Linked DNA regions of Homo sapiens: region 1 is linked to region 2. The links come from fine-mapping of genetic effects on gene expression. A gene starts in region 2. The other region holds a variant in brackets. All regions are shown on one strand. Distances are between the middles of the regions.

Evidence for each region. PIP is the estimated chance that this variant, and not a neighbour inherited with it, causes the effect.
Region 1: its variant is fine-mapped to the expression of SNX25 in whole blood (INTERVAL, PIP above 0.99).

Annotation. Positions count from the first base shown.
Region 1 is chr4:185,279,980-185,288,313 of GRCh38, reverse strand. It overlaps SNX25 (sorting nexin 25), which reads right to left. Exons shown (of 19, transcript NM_001378034.2): 6 at 232-302. Among named protein-coding and RNA genes, the nearest start is that of SNX25, 75 kb to the right of the region's middle. The variant A/G (reference allele first, on the strand shown) is at 4,924.
Region 2 is chr4:185,204,569-185,212,902 of GRCh38, reverse strand. SNX25 (sorting nexin 25) reads right to left here and starts at 3,305. Exons shown (of 19, transcript NM_001378034.2): 1 at 2,648-3,305. The coding sequence starts at 3,076. It also overlaps a transcript of CFAP97 not described here. RefSeq lists silencers at 2,497-2,686, 2,757-2,916, 3,027-3,606 and enhancers at 7,751-7,840, 7,951-8,060.

The DNA of each region.
Region 1 (8,334 bases), 75 kb before region 2:
TGCAGCTGAATAAAGTTTATACGGGAATACAGAAATACAGACAAAGGTTGTTGTTAGGATGAAATTATATTTACTTCTCTAATACTGTAATAGTATTGTTTTTAATAAATTGAAATATTTAAATGTAAGCCAGAAAAGCTCCTATTTGCCAAAGATCTGACAGGTGGGAGAAGGCCGGGGATCAAGCTGACCTTTCAGATGTGGAACTGAAGAAAACAACCTGGCTCTTACCTTTGTGCCTCTTCAGTTGGGGAAAGCTGCTAATTGTAGTCGCCTGGATTATTTCCACTACAATTTGATACCTGATTTTTAAAAAGAGAAAAGAAAAAGATTTAAGAGGAAGAAAATACTATTTTCAGAAATAACTTTAGACTGTATTTATACTAAACAAATGTAACACAGGAGCTGTGAATCCTGCCCAAGGCTCCATAAAATAATCCGACATAGACCGAGCATCTACAATAGGCCGGGCCCCATGCCACGCGCTAGTCATTCTGAGGCCCTCACGTAAACATCAGGAGCCTCCTCACTTCCACTCTGTTCCCTATACCAGAAGCATAACTACCTGTAGAAACTCTGAGGTTATGCTCAGCCTCCCTCTCCTCCACAATCCTAGGTGAGCAGAGCTAGCTGATTCTACTTCTTACATTGGCACTGTCTAATAAGGTGATCATGAGCTACATGTGGCTATCCAATTAAATTAATAAACGTTTAGTTCCTCAATCACACTAGCCACATTTCAAATGCTCCACGGTACCTGTGGGCTTGTGGACCACACCGGGCGGTGCCAAGTAGAACATTTTCTTCACTGTAGAAAGTTCTACTGGATGGTGCCGTCTTAAATAGTTCTCAGAACTGCCCTCTCCCCTGCAGCCCCACTGCCCTGCCTGAGTGCAGCGCCTCATTGCTTCTCATTTAGAACACGGTCCCAACCCAACAGAATCAAAATATCTGCACCAGGACTCGCATCAGTATTTTTAAAGCTCTCCTGGCAATTCTAAGGCACACGGAGAGCTGAGAAGCATGAGATTAGAGCACCAGCTATATATATGTGTGCCTAAGAAGACCTCCAAGTCAGGAAAAATAAACATAATTCTACATTTTAAGTGCTGAGTACAACCCTGGAGTTGTAGCTATTTTGAGCATAAATTCAATTGGGCTTTACAAATCCAAATTCTTAAGAGTCCTTTAATGGTTACTAAGTATTGCCCTAATCAAAGTGGTTTATCCTGAGTGTTTCTTAGCCCTTAATTATATGAATTAATTAATTTCATCTGCTGGTAATAAAGTTCTTTAACATTAATTCTTACTTTGAACAAAAACCGTGCAGTGTTCTAAGATTTAATGTTACATCTGCTGGCTTTTAGAGCACACAATTACATACATTCTTTTGCTTTTCAACTAAAACCCAGAGGAGAGACAAATTTATCTTAGTCATAGCTACTCATGGACTCCTCACAAATTTGCACCTTATTTTTTCATTTGGATAATATAAACATCAGTGGCTGACTCTCAGGACCTCAGAGCAGGCTGTCAGGAGCAGTGTTGGCATGCCAGTCAGAGATGGTGGCAGACACTGCCGGCTGCCTGCCCAACGTCCAGTCTCCCTTCCTTCCTTGTTAAGTGACCTACAGTTTTATCAGGGAAAGTGACATACCCAGCTAAAAAGACTAGCTTTCTTCCCAGCAGTCAGAGATGGCCAGGTGATACCATTCTAGCCTTGGAGACAGGCAGGAGTCACCGGGTAGGGATTCCAGGAAAGCAGGCTAAAAGCAGCCTCCGCAGAAAAGCCCTTTCCAACTTTAGTCCTCACCCTTCCCTCATTTTTCTGTGTAAAACAAGGATGCAACTGGATAAAGGCACAACAGTACCTTACAATCATGAGGGTAAAAGCCACAGGCCAGGCCGGGCACAGTGGCTCACACTTGTAATCCCAACATTTTAGGAAGCCGAGGGAGGATTGCTTTGAGGCCAGGAGTTCAAGAGCCTAGGCAGTATAGTGAGATCTCATCTCTACAAAAAATTAAAAAGTTGGCTGGGAGTGGTGATGCATGCCGGTAGTCCTAGCTACTATGGAGGCTGAGGCAGAAGGATCAATTGAACCCAGGAGTTCAAAGTCTCAGTGAGCTATGATTGCGCCACTGCCCTCCAGCCTGGATGACAGAGCAAGACCCTGTTTCTTTAAAAAACACATAACAAAACAAAACAAAACAAAACAAACCCCAAAACAGAAAAAGGCCAGGTGTGGTGGCTCATGCCTATAATCCCAATACTTAGGGAGGCTGAGGTGGGAGGATTGCTTGAGCCCAGGAGTTTGAGACCAGCCTGGGAAACAAAGGGAGACCCTGTCTCTACTAAAAATAAAAAAAAAAAATTAGCTGGGCATGGTGGCGCACACCTGTAGTACCAGCTACTTGGGAGCCTGAGGCAGGAGGATCACTTGAGCCTGGGTGGTTGAGGTTGCAGTGAGCTATGATTGTGTTACTGCACTCCAGCCTGGGCAACAGAGCAAGACCCCGTCTCAAAAACACAAAAACAAAACTACAAGCTAAGGATGATGCAGTAAGAAGACGGGAGGAGTTCAGGGTTCCAATTACATCATGAACCATCAAAACAGCCCCTAACTACCAATCTCAGGACATGTGGTGACATGGGGAAAATAAACACCTGCCTCATTTAAGTTGCTGTATGTCAAGCTGTCTTGTGGCCAAATGCCACTCCAACTGATAGAGAGCTTTCTGAGGAAGACTTGACGTGCTTCCACACAGCAATTCCAATCTCAAGTATTTATCATAAGGTAACAGTTTAACAAAAGAAAAAAATCAAAATGAAAACCCAAAGCCCAAACTATCACATACATGTTTGTTGTAGCAAGTTCTACAAAGAAACGCACGAAAATACTCATGGTCAATAATGAGTATGGCCAATGATGCTTTCATTAAACAAACATTTCTTAATCTTTTCTTACGTTCCAGACACACAGAAATGAACACCACCAATATGGTCCTTGCTTTCAGGACATATCAGATTAAACAGAAAGCATCCAGCCAGTAATATTTATAATAATAAAGATTACATGAAAATAGATGTTTATGACAGACTAATTTTTAAAATGAAAAATGGCACATACATTTATGATTGCAGATATGTATCTATGTGTATATATGAGCCAGGGCTACAAGGCAAAATAGAGATGAAATGAATGGCAGTTGTGTTAAAATGGTAGACTTATGAGTCATTTTTAACTTTTTCTAAGCTGTTTTATCTATGTACCTATGTATCTAAGCCTATTCAAGCTAAACTAACCTTCTTTCTTCCATAGTAAGGTTTCCTTACCTTTCCGTTTCTCTACTAGTACCATCATCCTTCTCAAAATCATCTTAGGTATATATACTACTAATAAACATCAGTTTCAAAGCCCCACGGATGGTCCTTTGAATGCCTCTAAATAAGCTTCTTGCTTACACTACCTTCAGCTACCATTGTTTCAGGCTGCCTTCTTTCCTGAGTAGGTCACTGCAATGGCTAAATGGCCTGTCTCCCTGACTTCAATCCTCTCTCCCATCCAAACCATCCTGAGCACCTGTCAACACACCCTCCTATGGGAACACTCACCTCATCTCTCCCTTGTTTACCTCCTGCACCTCCCCAAATGAATAACCCCACATTCCTGCCTACGTTCCCTTCACAACTTGGCACTGGCTCTACTATCCAACAACTTCGTTTTTTTTCTCCCTATGAATGTGAACCTAATTAAGCCAGGCTGGTTTCTATATTGCCCTCTCAAAACTACAGTCTCATGCTTTGTTTCCTGCTGGAAGGCAGTCTTCCTACTTGTCCACCTACCTAGATCTTACATATATTACTTCTTCCCTCAAGTCTTCCCCATCCCTATAATGCACACCAATATCTGTCTTCTCTGAAATCCTGAATGACTTCTGCTCTATAATAGTATCTATTTACTCTTTCATATTGCTGTTTTAAAGAGTCACACTTCCACAAAGAATGCTGTGAACAAAGAAAATGGTGTGCCCAGTCATTTCAAGGCCTAATACACCTTCAAAGAATGTTGACACATTTTCGAGCCTAAGAATGTAGACTGAAAACTACAAAACCATAGTTCTGTGTATAATAAAGATATGCTACTTTTTTCACCCCAACTAGATCAAGAGTCTCTTAAACACAGGAGTTCTGTCTTATATTCTCCTATAGTACCTAGCTTGGCACTAAACATATGGTAGGCACTCAATAGATATTAATGAGCTAAATTAACAAGAGTCAACATTTCTAACACTTAACAGGTAAAAATAATATTCTGAACAATTTATTCTTTTGATATTCTTTGTGATTCATGCTTTGGAACAAATGAGTCATCAAGGGTACCAAAGAAAATACACACCATCTGACTAAAGAGTTAAAGATTTTTTTAATGAAACCATAAAATTATAATGTAATACCAGCAAACATTCATAGATTGTACTGGGTACCTGTTTAGATATTTTAATTTACATTATCTCACTTAATCCTCATAATAAGGTGCCAGAATTATGTCCACATTACAGAGAAGGAAATTAGAATTCAGATGATTATGAGATCTATACAAGGTCTCATTGCTTTTAAGTCCTAGAGACAGAATGACAATCTAGGGCTGCCTGTCTTCTAAAGCTCATGCTCTAACCATTTTTCTGCTACTCTAAAATACAATATAGGTTAATACTTATCTTCTCTAGGGTTTTTCTAAGTACGTAAGTATGGCCAATGCCAGATCATCTTTCCAGCTTTACTGCCTTCTATATCCCTCCTGCATACTGTTTCTGCCAAACCAGACCATACGTGATACCATGAACACACTCCAGGTCTTTCCTGACTCCCTTCTCAGTAATATTTCTCCTTCTCCTTAACAGTACTCCTGTTTCTTCCTGC[A/G]CACCATCACTTCCCCTTATCTGCTGAAATCCTGTTAACTCTTATTAAACACTCCATGCATGGCCATTCCTCTCTGAAGCTTTCTTAAGAGTTCTCTGCTATAGAATAAAATATTTGCTCCTACCCACTTCCTTGGTGCTTTACACTCCACTTCCAGCCTTAGGATCTTGCTTCCTACTTAGCTACTTATAGTCACATGGGTCTCCTGTGAGGAACTGCAAACACTTGACAGCAGGGGGTGGAATCCAAGGAGTGTAACCAGTTCATCTTAGTACTCACCAGACCTTCTGACACAGCACTTTGCACATAGTGGGCATCTGAAGATGATTACTGAATTTGTTTAATTCACTGTTACTGGATACCGAGAGGAAATGATTGACTTTCTCATTCTTGTTTTTTTCTCAACAAAACTATACAATATATACATCCAAACACATCCAAATGCTGGCTATCCATGAGGACACGGGGACACGGGCTTCCAGAGTTACCTGGCACTCACTCGGTTTTCTTTCTCCAGAGGAGGATACGACTTTGCAAGTGCTGAGTTCGGTTCAAGAATCAGGAGGGCTGATGTTTGTACGCTTTCCCTTGATCAAAAGTGCACAGATTGTTGGTATATGTTTTGCAAAATGATAATGTAAAGTCAAGTATTAGGGAGGAGGGGCATAACAAGAATTCAGCTGCTTTCCAACTCTGGCAAGATCCTACCTACAGTATCCTTTGTCCCAGTGACAAGGAAAAGCCACACAAAGATAACTGCCATCTGCTCCTCAGAGTGGCCACCTCATCTCTCTTTGGTATTTTACAAGTGGCTAAATAAAAAGAGCAAGTTTGTGTTTCTGAACACGTCCCAACAATCTCAAACTCACTGAAATGCTACGCAGCACTTCAAAGTCATCACCTTAGATAGTTACAGATTTGAGGCCAGGCAGGGTGGCTCATGCCTGTAATCCCAGCACTTTGGGAGGCTGAGGTGGGTAGATCACTTGAGGTCAGGAGTTCAAGACCAGCCTGGCCAACATGGTGAAACTCTGTCTTTACTAAAAATACTAAATAAATAAATAAGCTGGACATGGTGGCGGGTGCCTGCAATCCCAGCTACTCGGGAGGCTGAGGCAGGGGAATCGCTTGAACTCGGGAGGTGGAGGTTGCAGTGAGCTGAGATTCCGCCGTTGCACTCCAGCCTGTCCGGACATGCACATGCTGTAATTTCATGGCAGAGTCAAAGGCTGGCCAAACCTTAGTCTCAGGTATGCGATGTGATAAATGGTTTAAAACACTGTTTTATAAAAATTAGCAAGATTATGGAGAATACCATACACATTACGAGTGCTTATGAAAAACCAAAGAATTTTTATTTTTATTTATTTATTTTGAGATGGAGTCTCGCTCTGTTGCCCAGACTGGAGTGCAATGGTGCAATCTCGACTCACTGCAACTTCCACCTCCCAGGTTCAAGCGATTCTCATGTCTCAGCCTCTGGAATAGCTGGGATTACAGGTGCGCACGACCATACCCGGCTAATTTTTGTATTTTTCGTAGAGATGACGTTTCACCATGTTGTCCAGGCTGGTCTTGAACTCCTGACCTCAAGTGATCTGCCCGCCTCAGCCTCCCAAAGTGCTGGGATTTCAGGCATGAACCACCGCACCCAGCTTAAAGAATTTTATAAGAATGTTTTCAGAGTTGCCACAGGCTAGGAATGTTTTTGTTAGAGGGACTTCAGTTATAGAATTTGTGAAGAAATAAAGCCATGATGCTTTTAGCCAGCTAAGCTGAAGTTTTTTCCCATCCATGGCACTACTAAAAGGGACTGCTGGATAAATGAGAAAGTGTATCAGAGTAGTAAAGAATGTGAGCTCTCACAGTGGATGGCCTGTGTTCAAATCCTGTTTCTAACACACACTATGTCATCCTGGGAAAATGATTTAAGCTTTCTAAAACTAAAGCATCATCATTTATAGAAAAGAGTAATAAGAGTAATTTTTCTTTATAGGGTTGTTATACACATTAAATTAGATAATACCCTTAAAAATCTTAAAACACAGTCTGCCCCGCAGTGAGAGTTCAATAAATGTTCATTATTATTCTTCCTTAACACAGTTACTGAGTCTTTAGATATGTACTATCTAGGGAAATGGTACGTATACATGTTTGTTAAATATGTATAAATTTGAAGCAGCCTTATTTTTTCCTGATTACAGAGCATTTTAGCCCAATCAACCTGAGACCACCAAGATCACTCTAGTCCAACAAAATCAGGTCAACTGACCCACATAAAGAGCAAGAGACAGTGTAGCAGTGGAAGCTGTGGGGCGTCTCTCCAAACGAGGGAAAAGGTAACATTACTATGGGATTCTAGGGAACAGTGGAGTGAAGGTGAAATTTAAATGAAGCAGCATTTTGATAGGCCCAAGACAGGGCTGTGTAAAGCGGTCAATGTTGGGTGGATCCAGGGTCTCGTTTCCTGAAAGCTGCAAGATAGATATACTGAGTCCAGAAACCCCATAACTGCGGCTCTGCATCTGGGTCGTAAATCAAAGCTGCTTCTTTGTGTCAAGCTGACTTAGATCACCCAGGCAAAAGTAGAATCTGTCATTCTTACTGACATAATTCCAAACAGGAACTGGCAGTTGAAGATTTTTGAAAACAAAGTTTCTCAGTGAACACGAAAGCACAAAGAAGGGTATCATTATGACATTTTACTGCCATGGCAGGTACTTAGGAGAAATATTGTTTCCTGTTTACTTTGTAGGTGGCTTTAGTGTCTGTTATACCAGCCTGATAAATGGCTGGGCAGATTTTACTTTCTCAGTCTGCACCAGTTTTTACTTTCTCTAAAGTAGCATATGTTCATTGAAGAAAATGAGAAAATATACAAAGCACAACATTCAAAGTTAACCACTATTAACATTTGGACTATCTTTATAACCTTTTTCTATGCAAACATAATTTTTTTGTTTTATAAAACTGGGTTTATGCTATACATATTGCCTTAGAGTGTTTTTTATTAATTTATAATTAATATTTTCCAGCACAATTAAATATGCTAATGCTACACCATTACCAATATATGGTATTCCACTGTATAGATACACCAAAAATCTTTTTAACCAAACCCTTTTTGTTAGGCATTTTGGTTATTACAAGCTTTTCTCTACTTAAATAAAACTGCAGCATGGTGTGGTGGCTCACGTCTGTAATTCCAATACTTTGGGAGGCCAAGGTCGGTGGATAGTTTGAGACCAGCCTGGGCAACATAATGAGACCTCGTCTCTACAGAAAATACAAAAATTATCCTGGCGTGGTGGCATGCTCCTGTAGTCCCAGCTACTTGGGACTGGGCTGAGGCTGAGGTGGGAGGATTGACGGAGCATGGGAGGTCAAGGTTGCAGTGAGCTGTGATCGCGC
Region 2 (8,334 bases):
ACACTAGGAGAACTCAAAATATATAAGGATAAATGAGGATTCTCTTCTTCACGCTGAATCCAAATTTGTGTAGCAGTCACTGTTATTCTAAGGAGCTCCATTTGGTTCACTGCTAAACAGCCTCCCCCTCCACATATGTTAGCTGACCTGTGTGGTCCAGCTCCCACAGCACTGACTGTAGATATTTTATACTACACCACATGCTTCTGCTTCCCACTCTTCCATTCATAAAGAAGAGAACATTTAAAAAGCACACACAGCCAGGCACGGTGGCTCACGCCGATAATTCTAGCCCTTTGGGAGGCTGAGGCAGGAGGATCACTTGAGGACCCTGTCTCTACAAAAACTTAGCCAGGCGTGGTGGCTTGCACGACAGAGCAGACCCTGTCTCAAAGCAAAAAAAAAAAAAAACACACACACACACACACACACACACACATCACACAAATTATTGGAAATACAGCACTAGAGGCTTGAGTAAACAGTACCAGTACTACAAAGAAAATAGAATTTTATGTGAATGACATGTATTTCAGTTCTAAGCAATATATAACTTAGAATGTAATTTCCTAATGCACTTAAAAAATTTAAAAAAAAATTTTTTTTTTTTTAAGAGGCAGGGTTAGGCCAGGCACAGTGGCTCACGCCTGTAATCCTAACACTTTCCGAGGCTGAGGAGGGCGGATCATTTGAGCTCAGGAGTTCAAGACCAGCCTAGGCAACATGGTGAAACCTGTGCCCAGCCCCTAATGCACTTAATTTCTTATTTAAGGCTATTTTAGGAATTCAAGGACAAAAATAATTACCAATATTCATTTTCCTTAGATTATACTTCCCCTCTTCTATTACCTGAAATCTTCGGGTAGTATTCATGAGAGATTTATACATGCTGCTTCATTTTCTCTGTCACCTTTAAAATACTATTTTCTCCAACTCCTCTACTAAACAATCTTTCTAGATGATAATCCACGTTTTACCTACCCAGAGGTGCCAGTGAGCTGGGAGATTTGCGGGAATGCATTTTCCAGGAAACAGAGTGCTAACCCACAACAGGAGGCTTTCAATGCCCTGGGAGATGGTCTGCAATACCAGGACTTTGATCTTGACCTAACCCTCTAAACTTCCTTCCCTCACCTACTAGTCCCTCTTCATCTCTTACCTCTTAATCACTGTTTCAAAAGCATTTATCACTATCCCACAGTATTTATTTATTGCCTGCTCCCCCATAAGATCTCCAGAGAGCAGGATATTTATGTGTCCTGTTGATTCAAACTCAGCTTCCAAAACAGTACCTGGCTCACACAAGATGCTCAATAAATATTTACCGAATGAATTATAACATCTTACAGTACTCAAGAACTAAGACATATTTTATTGATCAACAAACAAACTAGTAAAATCTCAGGGTCCTTACTTGCCATGGTAGAAAAAAAGAGGAGAGACATATCTGCTCCGCAACTCCTGCTAAATGAGATATGAAAAACGGATGGCTAAGTGGAGATTTTGTAAGAGAAACCAACTTTACTAATTTTTGAGACCACTTCTAAAAACAGGAGTTGCCTGCTCCTTAATATACTGCCTTGTTTATCAGCCTACTGAGCGAAATGTCTGTTACCTACTAATGCCTTCCGCCATTATCTCAGCGCTGCATTCTGAACTAACACACTCAGAGTAGTTTGGTGAAGTGTGGTGCTTTCTTTTAAAATAAAGGAGTGAGCAGGTCATGTGATAAGCAAATACAAACCCTGGGGACAAATGATCATTAACAAATATTCTTATGAAGTTGAGCCACTGCCATTTATCTTACCCCAAAGCGCTTGGGCAATTTCATTAGAATGATGGTATCACTCAGTCAAGCAGTGAGTGTTAAGCTGGGATAGAATAAAGTTCCCTTTAAAGGATTATGAGAAGGAATGTGGAAGAAAGATGGGGCAGTGGGTTTGGCACTGAAGAAGAGAAGCGCTCATTTAAAACACTGTTCTTTCCTACATTCCCTAACCCCCGCCCTAGTGTCCCACAGCGCGCTGAGGATGGCTTTCCTTTTGTTGCAAACCAGTGATTTCTGGCATCCCCCTTCCAAATCACAGAAGCCAGCGGGGACTGCACAACTATAATACGTATCCGCATGGTGGAAGGCAGGATAGGGTGGTGGGAAGGGTACGCGGGCTTGGGGGTGAGGCGCTGGGCCAGGGACCGAAGCAAGTTTCCTCATCGGCAAACGGTCATAAAGTTGCCTCCCACCGAGAACGGCCAGAAGAACCAAGCGGATCGCCAGGACCGTGCGCAGAGCCTGCACGTAGCGAACGCTGTGATTCCCTTCTTCCCCTCCCACGGCAAGCGACACCGAAGGTCTGGGGACACCCTTAGGGTTGTGACTGAGGATGGTTGTCGAGTGACTACAGAGCCCAGTAAATAACGCGCATCTCCTCCAGCACCGCGGAGCGCGGAGCCCGGAGCCCGGAGCCCGCCGCGCGCGGGCGCCGGGGAACGCTCGCGTCCACGGCCGGGCCCGCAGCCCAGCCCCCTGGCTCCCGGCTTCCCGCTTCGACAAGGGCATGCCGCGGCCCCCCGGAGCTCGGGGCGCGGGAGCTGGCACCGGAAGCGGGGAGGGCCGGCGGAGCTGGGCGGCCAGGAGTCGGGTACTTACCCCCGGCGGGCGGCGGGCGGCTGAGGTCGCGGCCAGCCGGCTCCAGGCGGCGGCGAAGTCGGGCGGCTGGGCGCGCGGGCTCCGGCAGACGAGGGCAAACAGGATCCCCAGCAGGAAGGCGGCCGCCGCGCAGCTCAGGTACAGGCTGAGCCTGAACAGGACGGAGCTCAGCCCCGCGGCCCCCGCCGCCTCCCCGCTGCCGGGCCCCAGGAAGGAGAGGGCCACGGCGGCGAGTGCGGCCACCGCCACGGGCTTCCACCAGCTCCGGCCGCCCGGGGCCCCCGGCGCCGCCGCTGCTGCTGCCTCCGCGTCCCCCGGGGACTCCGGCCGCCGCTCGCCCCTGAAGCCCGAGACAGGACGGCCGCCGGCGCCTGCGGCCCGCGCGGGGCTGGGGCCGGCGCCGCCACTGTCGGTCGCATCGGGGTGCATGCTGCTTCCTGGGCCGCTAAGGACAGGCACATCTCCTGCCCCCCGGTCCCCCGCCGGCGCTCCGGAGGCAGGGGGAGCCCGCGCTCATGCCTCGCCCGCGGCCCACCGAGGGAGCGGCCCCCGCAGACGCCGCCGGGCCCCTCTCGGCGACCCCTCAGCGCCGCCACCAGGCGCTGGGCCCGTAGCTGCCGGGCCGGGCGCAGCCAGGGAGCCCCACCGTGTTGTGACTGAAGCCTGGCCAGCCTGACGCGGGCGGGGCGGGGCCGCCCTGAAGTGCGTGTCGGGCGGGGCCCGGAGCCACCGCGGCCGCTGAGTGACAGCCGGGAGGCGCCCACCCACAGCGCGGGGGCGGGGTCCGGGCCGGGGCCCCACGGGGAGAGGGCGCGACCCAGCGCGGTGCACACCTCTCTTTCCCACGCTCCCCTCCTCCTCTACAGGATGCCGTCTGTTCATGGAAAATTTTGCTGCAGGTGTCAGCGGCGCTGGTAATTCCTGAGCTCAGGTGATCCCGTAATTCTCCCTCTCCGCTCATCACTGACGAGTAACCTCTTCGCTTTGCTTACAGCCGGCAAACATTTCTGCCTGGTTTTCACTCGCTATTTAAATAGGCAACCGTTCCCGAGACTCCCTGTCACAGTTTCTAACGACCTTCCCTTTCCCACCCTGCCGCCTTAGGGAAGGAATCAGACACGTGCGGTGGAGTAAGTGAAGCCTGCAATTCCTAGCTATGGAAAGGTCCAAAGAAGTCGGCCTGGTGCAACAGGGTGCACGCAGCTGCCCATAATCACTTTGGCTCCACTTCTGGTTTTTGTTTTGTTTTGTTTTGTTTTTTGTTTTTTACCAACTATTCAGTTCAAATGCTATCAGCCACGCAAAGGAACGTGGTCCAAATAATTTTTAGAGTATATATTTGCCTTTTCTTCTGTCATAGTCCCAGCCAGTAATATACAGATAACGCTTGCTAAGTAGATGCCAATATGCTACTTAAACACTGGCAATTACTGCTAAGACTAATAAAGAAGCAGATGTAGCTTTTGCTTTTAGTATCAATTGGTATTCATGGGCATTTCATTCTTTCTTTCTTTCTTTTTTTCTTTTTTTTTGAGACGGAGTCTCTGTTGCCCAGGCTGGAGTGCAGTGGGGCGATCTCGGCTCACTGCAATCTCTGCTTCCTGGGTTCAAGCCATTCTCCTGGCTCAGCCTCCCGAGTAGCTGGGATTACAGGCACGCACCACCACACCTAGCAAATTTTTGTATTTTTAGTAGAGACGGGGTTTCACCATATTAGCCAGGATGGTCTCAATCTCCTGACCTCGTGATCCGCCTGCCTCAGCCTCCCAAAGTGCTGGGATTATAGGTGTAAGCCACCGCGCCCGGCCTCATTTCATTCTTTCTTAAACCTTCTAAGTCAGAAATGAAGAGTGCCTCATGCTAGATGTGACTTTGCCATGCCAAGGGGATGATCAAAATAAGTTACCAGTTTCCTTTCTCCTCCTTTTTTAAGAAAATAGGGGCGGGCACGGTGGCTCACGCCTGTAATCCCTACACTTTCGGAGGCTGAGGCGGGCAGATCATGAAGTTAGGAGTTCAAGACTAGCCTGGCCAACATAGTGAAACTTGAACCCCGGAGGTGGAGGTCGCAGTGAGCCGACATCGCGCCATTGCACTCCAGCTTGGGCAACAGAGTGAGACTTCGTCTCAAAAATAAAATAAAATAAATAAAGCAGTATGATTAATTTTGAAGAAGCCCTTTTGCCTCTAAAATAGTTGTTAATTTTCACCCAATTGGAGCCCCTCAAAGTGTACCCTACCAACCCAAATTATTCAAATAAAGCACAGTGGCTTGTTATCAACAACAACCAAATCTATGTTTTTTGATCATTTACATGCCGAGGACTGTATTCTGAATTCTTTATGATAAATTTAAATTAATTTTTCAATTTTAGCCCTAGCTCACCATAATAGTAACTAACAGCACTTACTGTGTGCCAGATACTATTCTAAGGACCAAACATACTTCATTTAATCTTCCCAGCAACCCCGATGGATACCATTATCTCCATCTACACAGCGGGGAACTGAAGCACAGGAGGTAAGATGACATGCTCAACATTGCAAAGCTAATCAATAACAGAACTAGGATTTAGTTGTTACTCCATGTGGTCCAGCTTCAGAGCTTGTGCATTGAATCGCTATGCCATGATGCTTCCTAAGAATTCTCTGATTTACTCATCTCATATTACAGAAGAGAAAAAAAAAGGTTAAATTCTTGATCCTGATCTGCATTCCATGCTTAAAAGTGGATAGTTGGCCAGGCGTGGTGGCTCAAGCTTGTAATCCCAGCACTTTGGGAAGCCGAGGTGGCTGGATTACCTGAGCTCAGGAGTTTGAGACCAGCCTGGTCAACATGGCAAAACCCCGTCTCTACTAAAAATACAAAAAATTAACCAGGTGTGGTGGTGTGCGCCTGTAGTCCCAGCTACTCGGGAGGCTGAGGCAGGAGAACGGTGTGAACCTGGGAGGCAGAGCTTGCAGTGAGCCGAGATCGCACCACTGCACTCCAGCCTGGGCGACAGCGAGACTCCGTCTCAAAAAAAAAAAAAAAAAAAAAAAAAAGTGTGACTGGTTAAATTTAGGTGTCAATTTGACTGGATTGGGATTACCTGGAAAACTGACAAAGGATTATTTCTGGGTGTTTCCCAAGAAGATTGCCCCTGGGTCAGTGGATTGAGTAGGGAAGATCCACCCTTGATGTGGGCAACCGTCCAATCAGCTGTGGCCCAGAAAGAACAAAAAGGTGGTTTCCTCTGTGCCCTGAAGCTGGGATACACTCTTCTCCCATCCTTGGACATCAGAACTCCAGGCTCTGGCGTTGAGACTCCAGGTTACACTAGCAGCCTCCTGGGTTCTCAGGCCTACTGCCTCAGAGTTATGCCATCCTATTCCCTGGTTCTGAGGCCTTCAGAGTTGGACTGAGCCACACCACCAGCTTTCCAGGCTCTCCAGCCGGCGAAGGGTGTATCATCAGAGTTCTCAGCCTCCATAATCATGTAAGCCAATTCCTCTAATAAATTCCTGCTCATATATCTATCTATATCCTTTTGGTTCTGTCTTTCTGAACCAAGATTAGTACATCTTCCATTCTTTTTTTTTTTTTTTTTTTTTTGAGACAAGAGTTTCGCTCTTGTTACCCAGGCTGGAGTGCAATGGCGCAATCTCGGCTCACTGCAACCTCCGCCTCCCCGGTTCAAGAGATTCTCCTACCTCAGCCTCCCGAGTAGCTGGGATTACAGGCATGCATCAGCATGCCTGGCTAATTTTTTGTATTTTTAGTGAGATGGGGTTCATCGGGCTGGTCTCAACCCCCCGACCTCAGGATCTGTCCACCTTGGCCTCCCAAAGTGCTGGGATTACAGGAGTGAGCCACCATGCCCGGCATACATCTTCCATTCTGTCTGTCCTGCAGACCATCTTAATGTTGTTATGTGGACCAGAGGCGCACAAGTCATGGGCTGAATAATATTCCATTTTATGTATCTACTACATTCTGCTTCATCTGTCTGTTGATAAACAAACACTTGAGTTTTTTCCGCCTTTTGGCTATTCTGCTATGAACATGGGTGCATAAGTATCTGTTTGAGACCCTGCTTTCACTTCCTTTTAGTGTATGTCCAGAAGGGAAATTGCTGGGTCATATAATTCTATGTTCAAGTTTTTCAGAACATGCCATACTATTTTCCACAGTGGCTGAGTATGCTACATTCTCACAAGCAATGCATAAGGGTTTCGATCTTTCCACATTCTTGCCAATCCTTATTTTCTATTTTTTTGACTAAAGCCATCGGTATCTCATTGTGTTTTTGACTTGCATTTCCCTAATTAGTGGTGTTGAGTATCTTTTCATGTGTTTATTGGCCATTGGTATATTTTCTTTGGAGAAATATCTACTCAAGTCCTTTGTAAGATAAACTTTTGACCACAGTTTGTTTATTTATTTAGAGACAGGGGCTTGCTCTGTCGCCCAGGCTGGAGTACAATGGCGTGATCTCAGCTTACTGCAACATTTCCCTCCTGGGTTCAAGCGATTCTTCTGCGTCAGCCTCCTGAGTAGCTGGGATTACAGATGTGCACCACCACACCTGGCTAATTTTTGTATTTTTAGTAGAGACGGAGTTTCACCATGTTGGCCAGGCTGGTCTGGAACTCCTGACCTCAGGTGATCCGCCCACCTCAGCCTCTCAAAGTGCGGAATTACAAACGTGAGCCACCGCGCCGGGCCAACCACAGTTTAACAACTATCCCTGGAAAGTGGTGCCAACACAGTTTTATTAAGCACTTTAAAAGAAAGTGAAATTCTTGCTTTTTTTTTTTTTGAGACACAGTCTTACTCTGTTGCCTAGGTTGGAGTGCAGTGGCACGATCTCGGCTCGCTGCAACCTCCACCTCCGGAGTTCAAGCGATTCTCCTGTCTCAGCCTTCCGAGTAGCTGGGACTACAGGCTCACGTCACCACGCCCAGCTAATTTTTGTATTTTTAGTAGAGACAGTGTTTCACCATATTAGTCAGGCTGGTCTTGAACTCCTCTCAGGGGGCCCCACCCGCCTCGGCCTCCCGAAGTGCTGGGATTACAGGGGTGAGCCACTGCGCCCAGCCAATGCTGTCTTTTAGGCAACAAAAAGAGAATTGATTATACTTTTGGTAATTAAGACCAACAAGTACAAAATGCATTGTGAAGGACGAAAATAGACAATCCTTACTGGAACTCCCCGGGACAGGCAGGGTAAGACCCATATTTCCTACCCTTCTTTGCACTTAGATGTGAACAATATTTATTAACTACTGGATTGTATACCATTGCTGCTATAACAAATTACTACAAATTCAGTAGTTAAAACAACACAGGTGTATTGTCTTACAGTGCTTAAGGTATTAAGTCTAAAATCAAAATTTGCAGGCTCTAGTTCCTTCCTGAGGTTTCAGGAGAGAATCCGTTTCCTCCTTTTGCAGCTTCTACCTGCACTCCTTGGCTCATTGCCTCTGACATCACTCCAACCTCTAGCTTCTGTGCTCACAGCTCCCACTACTGACTTTGAACTTCTTGTCTCCATCTTATAAGGACCTTTGTGATTCCATGGGGTTCACTGGATAATCCTGGTTAATCTTCCCATTTTGATCCTTAATCACATCAGCTAAATCCTGTCTGCCACATAAGGTGACATATTCACGTGTTGTGGGGACTAGGAGGTGCACATTTTTGG